Homo sapiens: one gene and its partners. The protein of the gene in region 4 purifies or fractionates together with the protein of the main gene of each other region. This does not show direct contact. Each region holds a gene or a part of one and is shown on either strand. Other genes may lie near its edges.

Evidence for each region.
Region 1: the proteins of NT5DC2 (region 4) and PDS5B fractionate together in Homo sapiens (co-fractionation; one large-scale study listed by BioGRID). This does not show direct contact.
Region 2: the proteins of NT5DC2 (region 4) and GRPEL2 purify together in Homo sapiens (co-immunoprecipitation; one large-scale study listed by IntAct). This does not show direct contact.
Region 3: the proteins of NT5DC2 (region 4) and HMGCL purify together in Homo sapiens (co-immunoprecipitation; one large-scale study listed by IntAct). This does not show direct contact.

What each region holds. Positions count from the first base shown.
Region 1 is NC_000013.11:32,588,998-32,593,145, forward strand, and holds part of PDS5B (sister chromatid cohesion protein PDS5 homolog B), read left to right. Parts: intron 1-4,148. UniProt on the Homo sapiens protein: Regulator of sister chromatid cohesion in mitosis which may stabilize cohesin complex association with chromatin. May couple sister chromatid cohesion during mitosis to DNA replication.
Region 2 is NC_000005.10:149,351,676-149,355,616, forward strand, and holds the end of GRPEL2 (grpE protein homolog 2, mitochondrial precursor), read left to right. Parts: 3' UTR 1-2,908; downstream 2,909-3,941. UniProt on the Homo sapiens protein: Essential component of the PAM complex, a complex required for the translocation of transit peptide-containing proteins from the inner membrane into the mitochondrial matrix in an ATP-dependent manner.
Region 3 is NC_000001.11:23,815,242-23,819,389, forward strand, and holds part of HMGCL (hydroxymethylglutaryl-CoA lyase, mitochondrial isoform 1 precursor), read right to left. Parts: intron 2,343-4,148; coding exon 2,235-2,342; intron 1,530-2,234; coding exon 1,434-1,529; intron 1-1,433. UniProt on the Homo sapiens protein: Mitochondrial 3-hydroxy-3-methylglutaryl-CoA lyase that catalyzes a cation-dependent cleavage of (S)-3-hydroxy-3-methylglutaryl-CoA into acetyl-CoA and acetoacetate, a key step in ketogenesis. Terminal step in leucine catabolism.
Region 4 is NC_000003.12:52,527,159-52,531,291, reverse strand, and holds part of NT5DC2 (5'-nucleotidase domain-containing protein 2), read left to right. Parts: intron 1-1,957; coding exon 1,958-2,142; intron 2,143-2,356; coding exon 2,357-2,431; intron 2,432-2,599; coding exon 2,600-2,655; intron 2,656-2,752; coding exon 2,753-2,846; intron 2,847-2,980; coding exon 2,981-3,109; intron 3,110-3,218; coding exon 3,219-3,279; intron 3,280-3,360; coding exon 3,361-3,463; intron 3,464-3,573; coding exon 3,574-3,675; intron 3,676-3,916; coding exon 3,917-3,998; intron 3,999-4,133. UniProt on the Homo sapiens protein: Promotes dephosphorylation of tyrosine 3-monooxygenase TH which decreases TH catalytic activity and leads to reduced synthesis of catecholamines including dopamine, noradrenaline and adrenaline.

The DNA of each region.
Region 1 (4,148 bases), on a different chromosome or scaffold from region 4:
GCCTTAGAACTAACAGGAGTGCTCAGTATGATTTGGCATACGGACTCTTGAATGACATGGACTGTATATAACGTATATTGGAAAAGAATACATTTGTGTTTCCTCTGTTAGTGTTAAAGAGCAACAAGAAAACTTAAGGATGATCTCCAACTCACTTATACATGAGAAATTAGGTTCAGATTTTAATTTCATTGATTTATCTGAGGTCACAGTCATATTCATGTGGTGGAACTGGGGCAGCCCTTAAGATATCCTGGAAGCTTAGAAGTTTCCCCATTGTCTTTTTTTGTTCTATTCAGGATTTAGCAATATTTATTAATAAAAATTCAGGGTAGTACATTACCCTCCATCCCCTTCTCACCTTTTTATTCATTTAACCAAGAATAAAGTTTTGTGGTTAGCCGTCTGTTTCAGCGTCTGGTTTTTAATAATTTCTGTTTAGGATTCAGTCCATTTAGGTTGTCTCAGAAGATAGCCTCTTGTAGGTCTCTGTCTCCGGGAGCCGTCTTTCTTTATGTAACATTACTTGACATGGCATTTATTTATTCTTTGTGAAACTTCTAAGAGTAATTTGGGAAAGTTAGTATTGACCTTTGTTTTGTTACAAGATATAGTGCGTGCATGAGTATGCGTGTATTTTTTCATTTTTAAACTCAGTTTGCTACACAAGTCATCTGTCACTTCTAGTTACAATAGGCGTTTTACTTGGTTTTCGTATTCCTGTTCGGGAATGTTAAAGATTCCAAAAATACTTAGTTTAAAAACAAGCCCAGTAGTTTCTCTGAGAGTGTATTTACTTTTTAAGAAGCTGCCAAATGGTTCGCAATTCTGACTCCTTGGAGAGTAGAGGTAAGAAGCCCTTTCCTCACACTGTTCTGTTACAACCACTTGATTCTAACCATTTCCCCCATTACTTGAAAAAGGTTTTAGAATCCTTTCTCATTAATTAGTTCAGAATTAAGAATAAATTTGCTGTGTTGAGACTGTAATTGTTTTAGCTGGCATGAGTGATCGTGCACAGTGAAAAAATCATGATAATAAAACTTAGATGAATAAAATTTATTTGTTCAAATCTTAAAGCCTTTGAGGTTTAAAAAGTATAATCATTGTGTTCTAATAATTAGACATTAATAATAAGTAGTAATTAAAAATACTTGGTTTAGCTATGTAAAACATAAAAGCTAACAGGCTTGGGGGAAAGACTGATTAAAGTAAGAAACTATTTTGAGGCATCTTTTTAAGGACTAAAAGTATTCCACTAGCCTGCCATTCTCTTTTTTGACGGATAATTACCTGATTCAATTAAAATGAACAGGTACAAAACTTCCATATACATACAGTACCAGGGATGATGCACTAAACAGGACTGAAGACACCCTGTCCTATAGAAGTGCAGAGTAGTGGTTGGCCATCCACAGCAAGGTGATGAGAGCTGAGACAGACCAGAGAGTAGGATCTCTGCTGTTACTTAGTTCCGAAGGAGCAGGCCCTCCTTCCTTTTCAGTGGCAGTTGAGGTTGCTCTTTTTATGTGGGAGAGTGAAATTAGCCAAGATTAGATCCCATAAGGAGAAGGAGGGGCTCTTATAACCAAGACCATTGTCTTTCTCTAGAAGAGGATGGTTAGGGACCTGAAAAGAAATGAGATTTTGTGTTTCCTTAGGTAAGATAGGATTCTTTCTCCTCAGAGGTGATTTTAGGGAAGTAATTGAAGATATTTTAAAGGAAAGCTCCATATCTCCAAAATATTATTTAGTAGCTGAAGTTCTACCAGGTAGTTTCAGTTAGCTTTCAGATATGGGATGCTTTGGGTTGGGTGTGGGGGTGAGAGTTGCAGGGGCAAGTTGCAGGGGCAAGATGCTGGGCAAATTGCAGGGGTGAGAGTTGCAGGCCTTAAGTACTCTATTAGGGGAATAGAGTACCTAAAGAATTGTGTATTTTAAGTTAAAAGTTATACAGGTATATGGTAAAAAAAAAAAAAATTTAATGATAGAGTAAAAAATGTTACTTTTTTCCTCCCCCCACAGGTAATCCACTGTTAACAGTTTCTTAAAAGTTTACTTTAAAAAAAATTGTACAAAGAGTATTGTTATACTGTTGTACTGTAATTTACTATTTTATTTATTTATTTTATTATTATTATTATTTTTTGAGATGGAGTCTCGCTCCGTTGCCCAGACTGGAGTGCAGTGGGGCAATCTTGGCTCACCACAACCTCCACCTCCTGGGTTCAAGTGATTCTCCTTCCTCAGCCTCCTGAGTAACTGGGACTACAGGCGTGTGCCACCATGCCCAGATAATTTTTGTATTTTTAGTAGAGACTGTGTTGGCCAGGCTGGTCTCAAACTCCTGACCTCGTGATCCGCCCGCCTCGGCCTCCCAAAGTGCTGAGATTACAGGCATGAGCCACCACGTCCGGCCTACTGTTTTATTTTTTAACTGTGATTTACTTTTTTCCTTAGTTAAGTCACAAGCTCTTTTCATACTGGCACATACAGATCAACATAATTAAGAAATAATAAGAATATTTTATTATAACATAATTTATTTTTTCTGACTCCTGTTGAGTAGTACTACGTTGTAATAGTTTACATTGACCAGCAGCGTATGAGAATGCCTGTGACATGTATTTACCAACATTGGACTTTAAAAAACTATATTGCCAATTTGATATATGAAATTTGTCTTGTTTTGGGTTTGTATTTCTTTGTGAGTGAAGGTAAACATTTGTTTATATGCTTATTAGGGGGAGGCCATTTGCAACATATTCTTTAATCAAGTGGTTTAATGCTAGTTTAATTTACTTGCTGCCCCCACCACCTACCTTCACCCTTACCTAAGAGCTAAGATGGTCTGAGAGAAGTGGGACTTTAAGAAGAGGAAAAATATTTTGGGGCTCATGGCACCTTGACGGGGAGCAATGCTCTGAATGGAGAGGCTACAGCACCTGGCTTTGAACAACTCTGGGTCAGTATGAGAGTATTGAAAGCCCTTGACTTGGTGTAAACATAAGGTAGAAGAGAAGCTGAAGCGACACACAGGAAGGGAGATTTGAGAGTCAGGGCAAATAAATTTTGTATAGAGTCAACCCCACCTTGTACCATCTGCTTATCCTGTCTCATCACTTCTCCCTCCCACCTTCAACTATCATTTCATTTTTATTCATACTGTCATTTGGTTTTCTCCTCTTTTCCTGTCAGGCATGGCAGCCTGGACCTGGGTATTTCAAATGCCCCAGAGATGAGGTGTGCTTAGTTTTTGGTTTTCTTTTTTTTTGAGACGGAGTTTCGCACTTGTTGCACAGGCTGGAATGCAGTGGTGTGATCTCGGCTCACTGCAGCCTCGGCCTTGGCAGGTTCAGGCGATTCTCCTGCCTCAGCCTTCTGAGTAGCTGGGACTACAGGTGCACGCCACCACGTCTGGCTAATTTTTTGCATTTTTAGTAGAGACAGGGTTTCACCATGCTGGCCAGGCTGGTCTCGAACTCCTGGCCTCAGGTGATCTGCCCGCCTTGGCCTCTCAAAGTGCTGGAATTACAGGCGTGAGCCACTGCGCCCTGGCCTAAGTAGAAGCTCTTGAGCACTTTTTCCCCCTCTGTCTCTTTGGTACTATTCCTTTCAGCTTTCGACTCTCCTAGCCTTCTGGGGTAACATAAATAGGTCAAGTCTTTATAGCTGTAGTTGGAATTCGGAAGGTCACTGGCATTTAAGACTTGAACATAGGAGCATATATCACAATATATGCTCCTATGATATATCAGGATGTGATGCTTGATAAGTGGGGTCCCTTTCTAAGGAATGCAGAAGAGCATGGTGGTTAATTTAAGCATATAGACTTAAGAGTCAAGACAGCTTGGGTTTTTATCTCCTCTAGCTAAACAAGCAATTACCTAATCTTACTAAATCTCAACTTCTTAATCTGAACAGTGGGACTAACAGCAGAAACCTCATTTTTAAAAGCAGCTTTATTGAGATACAACTCACATACCATAATCCATTGAAAATACACAATTCATTATTTTTTAGGATACTCATAGGTTTGTGCAGCCATCATCACAGTCTGATTTTGGAACATTTTTGTCTTCTGTGAAAAACGCCAAACCAAATGTAAATGAGTAGAGCCATTACGGAGAATATTATGGGGGCTCCTC
Region 2 (3,941 bases), on a different chromosome or scaffold from region 4:
ATTTGGGTACTTAGAGGATAAAGCTTCGTGGTCGTATAAATTTAGATCATTTGGATTGATTTTTATACACATAGATTTTCAGGACTTTACCTTTTGTTTTGTTTTTTTCCTTTTAGCCATCTTTTGTTCTTGTAATCCCAACTAGATAGGCTTTATGCTCACATCATTGTCCCATACCCACCCCTTTCTCATCCCCATTTGCAGGGGCTAAAGGTCTAGATGAGACTTGGAAGGCAAGGAGCATCGAAATTTGAGATACCCAGGACCCTTTCAAGCAAGAATGGCCAAAAAGCCTTGTGCTGTCTTTGCTCTTCAAATTATTTTCAGCCTCCTTGTCATATAATCATTTCAGGCAAACTGAGGCAACACTAACAGCTAATGACCCAGATGGCTCTATTTGGGTAATTTACCTACAACTTATTCCACCAGCCTTTACTCCTCTGCCCTTTTGTCAATTTTACCTTATAATCCTTTATTAAATGATGGGAGGTGGTGATCAGGACAAAAGTGTTAGGTTCCCATGATTTCTCATTTCATTTATTAATAGTTAATGCTGAATTTTTTTTTAAGTTTCCTCTGGCTCTATTTATGTTACTTTTTGCGATAAGAACACTTAACATAAGTATTCTCTCCTCTTGGCAATTTTTTTTTTTTTTCCTGTGTTGCCCAGGCTGACCTCCAACTCCTGGGCCCAAGCAATCCTGCCTCAGCCTGCCAAGTAGCTAGGACTACAGGCGTTCACCACTGCGCCCGCAAAGTTTTTTTGTTGTTTTTTTTTTTAAGTTGGTACTCACAAATCACTACCTCTGTTATATTGACAAGCTCTATTTCCTATTCTTTGTATCTGTTAAGTCACATCTGTGTAAACATTGAGCTCACCTTTTATATATTAACCTCTAGAATTAATGGGCCTATGTGGTTTTTTTTCAGTCTTATAGCTGGTGTTCTGTAAAAGATTTGTCCAATAAACGACTTAATGAATGATACATCAGTCAGATTTTAGGAAGGCAGTCAATTATGGATATTTTAATGTTGGAAGAGGCCTTAATGATCAAATCTCACCCTTTCTGCTTCTGAAGTATGAAAATCTAGTCTTTTTAGGACTGGACACAAGGAAAATAATCTCTAAACTATTGACTAAATTCCAGTGAGAGTATGAATGAAGAACAACTAGATATTAATGTCAATCATTTAAGATTAATGGGCATGCAATTAAGTCTCCATTTAAGATTAATGGGCATGCAATGAAGTCTCCAGCAGACAATCAGATGTTGTTGGATGTCTAGATTATATAGGTTTAGGTTGAAGTTATAAAATAAAATAAAATTCATTTTCCACTGGAACTCTATGACATTCAGTGGAGTGGTGGAAAGTTAACCTCTTATACATTATAGATAATTCTAAGACAGCACACAAACTTATCAATAAAGCCATCTCCTTGTGGGCCTTACCATCTTCATCAGATTTAGACCCTTAAAAAACAAGTAAATATGCACTTTTAAAATGCAATCAAAAGACTGGTGGTTAAGCTTGTAAAACCAGAACATCTTTTGGCATTCCACTAAGTATATATTGTAAATTTAATGAACAATCAAGGTTCACAATAGGAAGTTGTCTTTTTTTGCCTTCCATTCTGTGAGATTTGACAGATGGTGACAATAAGAAAATGAGCTGATTGTAATTACTCTCTGTGTGTTTTTTTATTGCTAGCTATCATTACCAGTTAGAATTAACATTAATTACAATTAACAATAATTTTAGGTATGGAATGTTATGATTACCTAAAGAGATGTCTCTACCTAATGAGCTCAAGTGATCCTCCCACCTCAGCCTACCAAGTAGCCAGGACCACAGGCAAGTGCACCACCATGACTGGCTAGTTTTGTTTTTTGGTTTTTGGTTTTTGGTTTTTGGTTTTTTTTTTTTGGTTGGTTGGTTGTTTTTTACAGGCGGGGTCTCACTATATTGTCCAGGCTAGAAGAATTTTCTAATGGTCTATTACACCTCCCGTTTTGGCAAGTAAATTCAGAATAATTTTAGGTTCTTTTGTTATTCAGTAGTTTTGCAGACTTAAAAGTGTAAATTTAGAATTAGAAGATGAAGCTATAGTAGTAAGAATCTCAAGCTGAAGGGCTTTGGGGAGCCAAAGCAGCATATTAGAGCATAGGCTTGAACTTAAATCTCAGCTCAGTCACCTGCAGGACTTTAGGCACCAGTGATTTCACCCTTCTGAGCCTGTTTCTTTATTCGTAAAATGATTATAATAATTCTTTCACAGCGTTGTGAGGATTAAGTGAAATGTGTTAAATGCCTACTACAGTAGGTGCTCAGATATTTATTTTTATTTTTTTATTATGCACATTGTTTTTCCTGCCTTTTTATGGCTGTCTAAAGTCTAGGGAAAAGGGAAGACTGGTTAATGATGAGTAGAAAAAACTTGTAAGCTAATCATTCACTGACTTATTTTCCTTCCATTTTCTGGTTTTTAAAATTAGCCACACCACAGGAAACCCACATTTTTAGATGGAAAGAGCAAGAAAATTGTGTCAGTGCTCTTAGTTATTTTCATCTTAATGGTATAGTGAAAAGACATTGACTTGAGATGATACTAAGGAAGCTTTGGCTCACTCTCACTTGAAGAGGGGATCTTGGTGTTGTAGTACTTGGACTGTACAAATGTTTTACTGACTTTTCTTACTGCTGTAAAGGAATCAGGCAGTTGGGTATTGATATGTTATTTGGTGCTCTCATTCATGGCAAAGGATTTGATAAATAAAAGTTCTTTAAACACTAAAGCAAAATCAAATGAGCAAAACTAAGGATGAAATGTAATATTCATCAGAACAAGGATCACTGAGAAAAAATATTCAGAAACAACTTTAATAAAACCTGAATTGAAATAACTGCAGCTCTGGTGTTTAGAGTCTTTGTCTGCCTATTCGTATTGTATATGGAACATTATGGTCACTTCATGACTGCTGACCTGCCTTGTTGATGCTCTGGAGAGGTACCTTGAGATCTCATAGCAGCATAGCCAAGTGGATGCACTGTGGGCTTTCCCCACCCTGCCTCCGTGTTGAAGTCTTGTCTGTTTTATTCCTCCTTGACTTGCCTCTTTCTGATTGCTACATATTTCTTAGATCTGGATTCCTATTTCTGCCTTTTTTTTTTTTTTTTTTTTTTGAGATGGAGTTTTGCTCTTGTTGCCCAGGCTAGAGTGCAATGGCGCGATCTCAGCTCAGCGCAACCTCCGCCTCCCAGGTTCAAGCAATTCTCCTGCCTCAGCCTCCCGAGTAGCTGGGATTACAGGCACCTGCCACCACGCCTAATTTTTTGTATTTTGAGTAGAGACAGTTTCACCACGTTGGCCAGGCTGGTCTTGAACTCCTGACTTCAGGCGATCCACCTGCCTCGGCTTCCCAAAGTGCTGGGCTCACAGGCCTGAGCCACTGTTCCCAGCCCTATTTCTGCCTTCTTTTCTGGCATTGACTTGTTTTCTTGGGTTCGCCTTTTGGTTCTAGGTGTCTTATTTCCTTTGACTACTGCTGACTATTCTCCTAACCAGATTACAGACACTTGGCCTTGTTCTGACCTTCAGCTTCCCCATGTCCTTCCCACCTTGTGACTGCCTGGCCTTGTCTTTACCTCTGCTTCTCAGCTAGCTTCCATATACCTAGACTCCTGGCTGAATGGCCCTCTGTTGGGCCAGCCTTCCCTGGGATTTGGTCTTGCGTTTTCATTATCTTTCCAATACTGTCTGTACACTGTAGCTCCATAAACCATGTGTCCCATATTCCCAGTGCTAGTCAGTGAGTATATTCTTATTCCTATCCACTCAGATGTCCATGCTCTCAAGTTCACTGTAGTTTTAAAACATGGCTCCAGAATTTCTTGACACCTTTGTTGAGTAGGGCCCATGTCCATTCTTGAGTTTCCTTGGA
Region 3 (4,148 bases), on a different chromosome or scaffold from region 4:
ACAGAGACACAGAAAAGGTGGCCCTGGGAAAACGGAGGCAAAGACTGGAGAGATGCATCTACAAGCCAGGCAATGCCAAGGACTGCTGGCCACCACCAGACCCCAGCAGAGAGGCATAGGACAGATTCTCCCAGAGGCCTCAGAAGGAACCAATCCTGCTGACACCTTGATTTGGGACTTCTGGCCTCCAGACTGTGAGAGAATAAATTTCTGTTGTTTTTAAGCCACCCAATTTGTAGTGCTTTCTTTTTTTTTTTCTTTTTTCTTTTTTTGAGACAAAGTCTTGCTCTGTCACCCAGGCTGGAATGCAGTGGCATGATCTTGGCTCACTGCAACCTCCGCCTTCCGGGTTCAAGTGATTCTCCTGCCTCAGCCTCCTGAGTAGCTAGGATTACAGGTACCTGCCACCAAGCCTGGCTAATTTTTTGTATTTTTAGTAGAGACGGGGTTTCATCGTGTTAGCCAGGATGGTCTCGATCTCCTGACCTCATGATCCGCCCGCCCTGGTCTCCCAAAGTGCTAGGATTACAGGCGTGAGCCACCGCGCCCGGCCTGTAGTGCTTTCTTACAGTAGCACTAGGAAACAAACACAGTAATTTCTCTTAATTAAAAAAAAAAAAACTTTGATTTTCCCCAAGGAAACCACCACCACTGCCATCACCACCCTGGAAGTCACTCTTGAGAAAAAGCTTTTTTTTTTTTCTTGCTGTGTCACCCAGGCTGGAAGAGTGCAGCGGTATTATCATGGCTCACTGCAGCCTCGAACTCCTAGTCTCAAGCCATCCTGTGCCTCAGTCTCCCGAGTAGCTAGGACTACAGGTGCATGCCATCACAGCCAGCTAATTGATTTTTTTTTTTTTTTTTGTAGAGACAAGGTCTCCTTATGTTGCTCAGGCTGGTCTCAAGCTTCTGGCCTCAAGCTGTTCTCCGGCCTCAGCCTCCCAAAGTGCTGGGATTATAGGTGTGAGCCACTGTGCCCAGCCAAAAAAAGGTTTTTGCCTAAATACAGAACCAACGCCTCCAAAGATGTTCTTGTCTAAAATTGTAAGAAAGTTGGCAGATGCCAGCAACTACTGTTGAAACTCTTGTGGAGAGTTTGGTTACATTTCTCTAAAGAAGTGGATAATCAAAAGAGCTAACATTTATTAAGCAGTTACCTTTTATCTGGCTCTTGCTAAGCAATGTACATGCATCCTATCTTCTGAAATGCTCACAACTTCAGGTACTATCATTTAGCCCTATTTTATAGGCTTGTCAACTTGTCAAGATCACAGAGCAGTGAGTGGCAGGGCCAGGTTTGCCCCAGGGTCTGGCTGACAGACAAGCTATTCAGATGGACATCCCAGGACAGGGGACTGAGGCGCCAAGACAAGGCAGGGACCAATGCCATCAATCTCATTTCAGGAGCCCCCACCAACAAGCTATCCTCTTACCGCTGCCTCGAAGCCTTTCAAATTTGGGGTCAGGACTGGGTAGTTGATGCCAGGAAACTTCTGAATGCCCTTCAAGACTTCAGTGTGGTCACCCATCTAGGAACCAAGGGAGACATTGCCAAGTCATCACCAAGAGCAGACAGAGAGTTCAGTTAGAGAAAACCTTTTCATCACAAAACCTCTGTTCTCCAGAACTCTTAGCGAGTAATTCCTTCTGCAGAGCTGAGTCTCTCCAATACTTTTACTGTTTGTTTGACTGCTGATGGCTCAGAAGGGCCCTTGGTTTGGCTGAGATCCCAATTTCTCCATATGGCCCATACTGCCAGCTTTACATATGCAGAAACAGCAGGAATACTACTACCAGCCATTTATTGAGAATGTACTCTGGGCCAGGCACTGAGCTCAGCTCTGTGTTAAGCACTCCTTTGTAACAGGATGTTTCTTCTTCACTTAACTATCTTTGTGAAGCAGGAGTTGTCAGTCTTCCTCTTTTACAAACAAAGAAACCACAGACAGGCATAGAGGGTTTTAGACTTTAGGGCTAGAAGAGGTCATCTCTAACACTGAGGAGGGGAAGGCCTTAGCAATGTCACTGAGCAAGTCAGAGCAGAGCCAAGACTGAACCCAAGGCCCTGAATCCTGGGTCATGTTCTTTTGCTGCAACACAGTGCTATGAATCACCTGAGACCTCTCAAAGCCAGGGGCTTGGAAACCTATGTTCTCAACTTCTACTTGCTTCAAAGGCAAATGCAAAACTTTTCATCCCTAGAGAAAGGCCTTTCATTGAGGGCTAGGGCTCACCTGGGGAACCCACTTAGGAGACACAAAGCTGGTGGTTTCTATAACAGAGAGTCCTGCTTCAGAAAGCATGTCTATCAGCTTGATTTTCACTGGAGTAGATACGATATTCTATAGTGGAGAGAGAAACACCAAGGCAGCAAAGTTAGTAACAAAACAGCCTCAAAATGCAGTACCTGTTAGTTCAAGTACTATAGATAATTTTTTGCAGTGGATGCAGCTTCTCACCTGAAAAGGAGTTATTTACATAGAAACATTATTCTGCCATGCAGGCTTTCCCGTAAGTAAATGTGTGTTAATTTATAATCCCATCATAAACAAACTGAGAGCAATGTGTGATGGCCTGAAAGGGCAGAGATGACTAACCCTCTGGGGAGTATGGGATGGGGCCCCCAAAGTATCACACCCTCCTCGCTTCTGTCTCCCAATTGGCATAGGACTTCAGCCTCATGTGTTCAGCGTATAGCTTCTTTATCTTCCTCCCCACCATGTCCAGTAGCTCAACAGATTCCATGGATTCCTCTTTCCAAATCTACCATCATTATCCTGTATATAACATGGCATAGTCTCAAGCCACTAATTCATCTTACACAGGAATCCTCCTAAAATGCAGCTTCCAACCTTCCATTCTCTTGCATCAAAAGCTTTCTATGGCTCCCTAATATTTACAGGATTACGCAAAAAATTCTAAGAACTCCAGGTCCAGGCGGACACATTGGCTCACGCCTGTAATCCCAGCACTTTGGGAGGCTGAGACAGGCAGATCATTTAAGCTTAGGAGTTTGAGACCAGCCTGGGCAACATGGCGAAACCCCCTCTCTACAAAAAATACAAAAATTAGCCAGGCGTGGTGGCACGTGTCTGTGATCCAGCTACTCAGGAGGCTGAGGTGGATCACTGGAGCCTGGGAAGTCGAGGCTGCAGTGAGCAATGATTGTGCCACTGCACTGAGTGACACAGAGCAAGACCCTGTCTCAAACAAAAAGAACACACAAAAATACTCCAGGTCCTTCTCGCTAGGTCCTCCCCTTGCCTGCCTTCTCCAGTTTCTCTCCCACTGCTCTAACTTAATCTTTCCACAAAATTTTTTTTTTTTTGAGATGGAGTCTCACTGTATTGCCCAGAGTGGAGTGCAGTGGCACAATCTCAGCTCACTGCGACCTCCGCCTTCCGGGTTCAAGCGATTCTCCTGCCTCAGCCTCCAGAGTAGATGGGATTACACAAGCATGCCACCACCCCAGCTCATTTATTTTAGTAGAGATGGGGTTTCACCATGTTGGCCAGGCTGGTCTCAAACTCCTGACCTCAGGTGATCTGCCTGCCTCAGCCTCCCAAAGTGCCAGTATTACAGGCATGAGCCATCATGCCCAGCCTGTCAAATAATTTTTGAAAGCCCTCCATGTTGCAGGCATTGTGCTAGGTGCCGGGGATATAGCAGTAAGCAGAAGCAGAACAGACAGGATTCTGCCCTTCGGGAACTTACACACTATTGTTTCCAACAAGCACTCACTATTAAAGCTAGGATGGACGTGCTAAAAAAAAAAAAAAAAAAAAAAAAAAAGAGAAAAAGAAAAAAGCTTTTCTTATTGAAAAAATAATCAATATATGATTCTTTCAGAAAAACATGCCAAAAACAAAAGAAAACCACCCTTAGAATCTCCCAGTGATAACGCTATTAACACCCTGGTGTGTAACTTTCTAGATCTGTGCAGCCCAATATGTCACTAGTCACATGTGGTTATTTAAATTTAATAAAAATTGTATAAAAATAAAAATACAATTCCTTGGCCACACTAGTCACATCTCAAGTTCTCAAGGGCCACATGGGTATAGTGGCCACCACATGGAAAAGCTCAGGTCCAGAATATTTCCATCTTCACAGAAAGTGCTGGTCTAGGTCCTAGTCTAGATAAATGC
Region 4 (4,133 bases):
ACTGTCTCACTTGCATCCAAGTGAAGACTCCTGTCTACACCCACAGATCTTCGGAGCAGCCGCTCTGTGCTGGCCTGGGGAACCAGCCACACCTGATCCCCCACCCACACCCTGAACTTGGCTCCAAAGGAAAGGGGTGGGAATGGAGCCCTGTGTCCCCAGAGTGCCTCTGAGGCAAGTGCTCTGGGCACGGAGCACATCAGCGAGATGTCTGCCTCTTGAGTGCAGCAGCTGCCAGGCACACTGTGGGGCTTCCCTGGCCCTCTGGCCTGGCAGCTCCTGCTTTGTCATCGGCACTGGGGTTGTGGCTGAGACAGGGATCCCCTGGAGTCTTAGAGCTGGGGCCCCTGCAAGGCAGGGGTACTAGATGTACCCTGTACATCTAGTCCTGCCTGCTCCCTTCTCCCTGCAGCCCCTGCTTCTGGAGGGACACTGGGAAATTGGGGACAGGATGCTCATAGGCTCAGGAAACATATCACCCATTTAATCCTGCATATGTGCAGGTGCAGAGTGAGATTGCTGCACAGAGCAGCACCTTCCATATGACAGTCTTAGTAATTCTGTAGGTTGGTACAATTTTTTTTTTCTTTTTAAAAATGTTTTCACAGAGACAGGGTATCGCTATATGGCTTAGACCAGTCTTGAACTACTGGGTTTCAAGCAATCCTCTCGCCTCAGCCTCCTGAGTAGCAGGGACTGTAGGTGTGTGCCACCATGCCCCACTTGGTACAATTTTTTGTACCCTTTTAGAAACTAGGAAACAGGCCCAAGAGGTGAGGTGACATTCCTGAAGTCATAGCCATGAGAGGGAGGGCCTGGTCTTGTCTGGCTGACCTCATTGCATGTGGCCTTCCTAGCACATCTCCTTCCCTTTCCTTTCCCTTCCACTTTCTCCATTGTACACATAGGGAAACCAGGGCAGGTAACATGGGGCCTCTCAGCCCCATCTGCCTCCTTGGGACCCCAGAGCCCATGCCACACAGTGCTCTGCTCAGCACCCTGCTGTGGGCCTCAAAGCCAACTGCAGCCTCCTGGGAGCAGCCAGGGACTTGGGGTGGCCACGACCACATCCCCAGAAGGAGCAACCTGGATAATGGCCCAGAACCTGACATCACGTCCTGACTGTCGTAATTAGCAATGTTCCCTGGCTAGAGCCAGCAAATGTCATTATATGGGCTTGCGGGCAGCTGAAATCTGATTAGAGGGGCCTCACTCTCCCTGGGCTGTGGGAAGTGCACAGAGCTGGCAGCCCGATCGGCAGAGGGGCTCCCCCTCCCACTAATGTTCCTGAGCCCCAGTCCCAGCTCTGGGCAAGGTAGAAAAGTCAGCATCCATGGCCTCAACCCCCTAGTCTGGCCATACAGAGCCAGCCCCTCTGGGTTGGAGTCCTCAGTGCCCACATGGTATCCTCACACATAATCCCAGGGAGGCTGAGAGATGAGGCCAGGGGGCAGGGCAGGGCAGCTGAGAGGAGCAGAGGAGGCGCTGAATTGTGGGGGGCCAGACAGTGGTGTTCCTGCACGGGTTTTGAGCAAGTGGGAGGCTTTGCTTTGTAGAGCATCCCAAAAGCAGCTGTTCTGGGGCTAGGCGGTGAGGAGTTGAGTGACTGCTGCCAGGGTTCTAGCATGGCCTTGTGTCTGATGGGGCTTAGTGGTGAGGGCCTGGAGTAGTCACGGGCTCAGTATACCTGGTGGGCTATAGGAGATAGTGTAATGTAGGCAGGTGTAACCATGAGGAGGAGCTCCAGCCAGGGGCTCTGCCTTACCCTAACTGCGTGACCCTGGGCAAGTGACTTCTCTCTGGGCCTGTTTGACCATCTCCAGCACTGGAATAAGAGGTGCCATTGTGGGGCGTTTCTGAGGCTCACAGGGCTAGGTCCCCACAGAGTGCTCAGGAGCCATAGCTGCTGCAGGGATCATCATCCCCATCACTGCCTCCCTGCATCTCCTTCCTCTAGACCTCCTGCCCCCCGAGGTCTGCAGTCTCCTGAACCCAGCAGCCATCTACGCCAACAACGAGATCAGCCTGCGTGACGTTGAGGTCTACGGCTTTGACTACGACTACACCCTGGCCCAGTATGCAGACGCACTGCACCCCGAGATCTTCAGTACCGCCCGTGACATCCTGATCGAGCACTACAAGGTGAGACGGGGGTCCTTGCCACCAACAAACCCAGGGCTTGGAGGCTGGCCAGACCCACCTTGGCCTAAGCTCAGGGCTGAGTCGTGGGGCTCCCCTGGCCCTCTTGCCTGGCAGCTGCCCTGGGCAGGTGGCTGGATTGACCCCCTGGGGTGGCCACCCAGCCAGCAGGTCTGGCAGGGCTATTGGCTTAGGCCTGGCCCCTTTCCCCCGGCAGTACCCAGAAGGGATTCGGAAGTATGACTACAACCCCAGCTTTGCCATCCGTGGCCTCCACTATGACATTCAGAAGGTGAGTGGCTGGACCTGTATAGGGGCTCCCTCCTTGGCCTCCTCTTGGTATGGTCATTACCCCTCCGTCCCATCCAGCTGGGGTTCTGGCATGGGCTGAAAGAGGCTGGCTTGGGGCCACGGTGAAACTGCCTCCTCACCATCCGTCCTGCCTCCCTGGCGCCCCCAGAGCCTTCTGATGAAGATTGACGCCTTCCACTACGTGCAGCTGGGGACAGCCTACAGGTCAGTCGGCTCTGCCCCAACCCCACCCCCGCCCCACCCTACACTGCTGTTCTGGCTCAGGACTACCTTGGACTGATGGTATCTTGGGCCTGCTCAGGGGCCTCCAGCCTGTGCCAGACGAGGAGGTGATTGAGCTGTATGGGGGTACCCAGCACATCCCACTATACCAGATGAGTGGCTTCTATGGCAAGGTACTCCATACCCCAGCAGCCAGCCTGCCCCATGGACATGTGCCCATGTCCCAAGGCAGATTTGGGGCCCTCGTCTCCAGCACTGAAGGGGTTGGGGTCCCAAAGGGTGTCTGAGACAATGGCCCCCTCCCCAGGGTCCCTCCATTAAGCAGTTCATGGACATCTTCTCGCTACCGGAGATGGCTCTGCTGTCCTGTGTGGTGGACTACTTTCTGGGCCACAGCCTGGAGTTTGACCAAGCACATCTCTACAAGGACGTGACGGTGAGGATGCTGGGCCTGCCCTCGGATGGCAGGAAAGACTAAGTCCAGCCACAGTGGGACAGCCCCACCTGGGCCCTGCTGTACCCTCATTGTCCTCCACTGCCCCCAGGACGCCATCCGAGACGTGCATGTGAAGGGCCTCATGTACCAGTGGATCGAGCAGGACATGGGTAAGTGTGGACAGAAGCCCTGCCGTGGCCGGCCTGAGCAGGTGGCAGGACTGACCCTCACAGACTCATCTGCCCCATTAGAGAAGTACATCCTGAGAGGGGATGAGACGTTTGCTGTCCTGAGCCGCCTGGTGGCCCATGGGAAACAGCTGTTCCTCATCACCAACAGTCCTTTCAGCTTCGTGTGAGTCCAGCCCCTGTGGATGGAGGGACAGCAGGGCCAGGGCTCTGGGTGGGGAGGGCAGGCACGGAGCCGCCCTCAGACTACTTGCCACCTGAAACTCCTCCACACAGAGACAAGGGGATGCGGCACATGGTGGGTCCCGATTGGCGCCAGCTCTTCGATGTGGTCATTGTCCAGGCAGACAAGCCCAGCTTCTTCACTGACCGGCGCAAGTATGGGCATGGTGGGGGTTGCAGGGCCAGGGAAGGGGAATAGAGGCCCCACCCCAATGAGGGGACTGAAGCAGGAGGCCAACCTGGCCCTTGCCCACTGCCCAATGTGCTTGGGGTGAGAACACCCCCTTGCTGGCATGGGTCCACTTGAGCAGGTGGGCCTTTACGGAGGAGGGATGGGGGTTGCCCGGCCCGTGGCCCAGCCACAGACTGGAAGTCATGCCCTTTACCTGCACCCCAGGCCTTTCAGAAAACTCGATGAGAAGGGCTCACTTCAGTGGGACCGGATCACCCGCTTGGAAAAGGGCAAGATCTATCGGCAGGTAAGGGCCATCTGGGGAGAGCAGCATGTGGTGGGGGCATGGGGCCTAGCTAGGGCCCCAGGCTGTGCAGAGGCAGCCTCTGAAGAAGCAGCACAGCTCCTTGGCCCTGAGCAGCCTCACACAGGCAATGGCTGG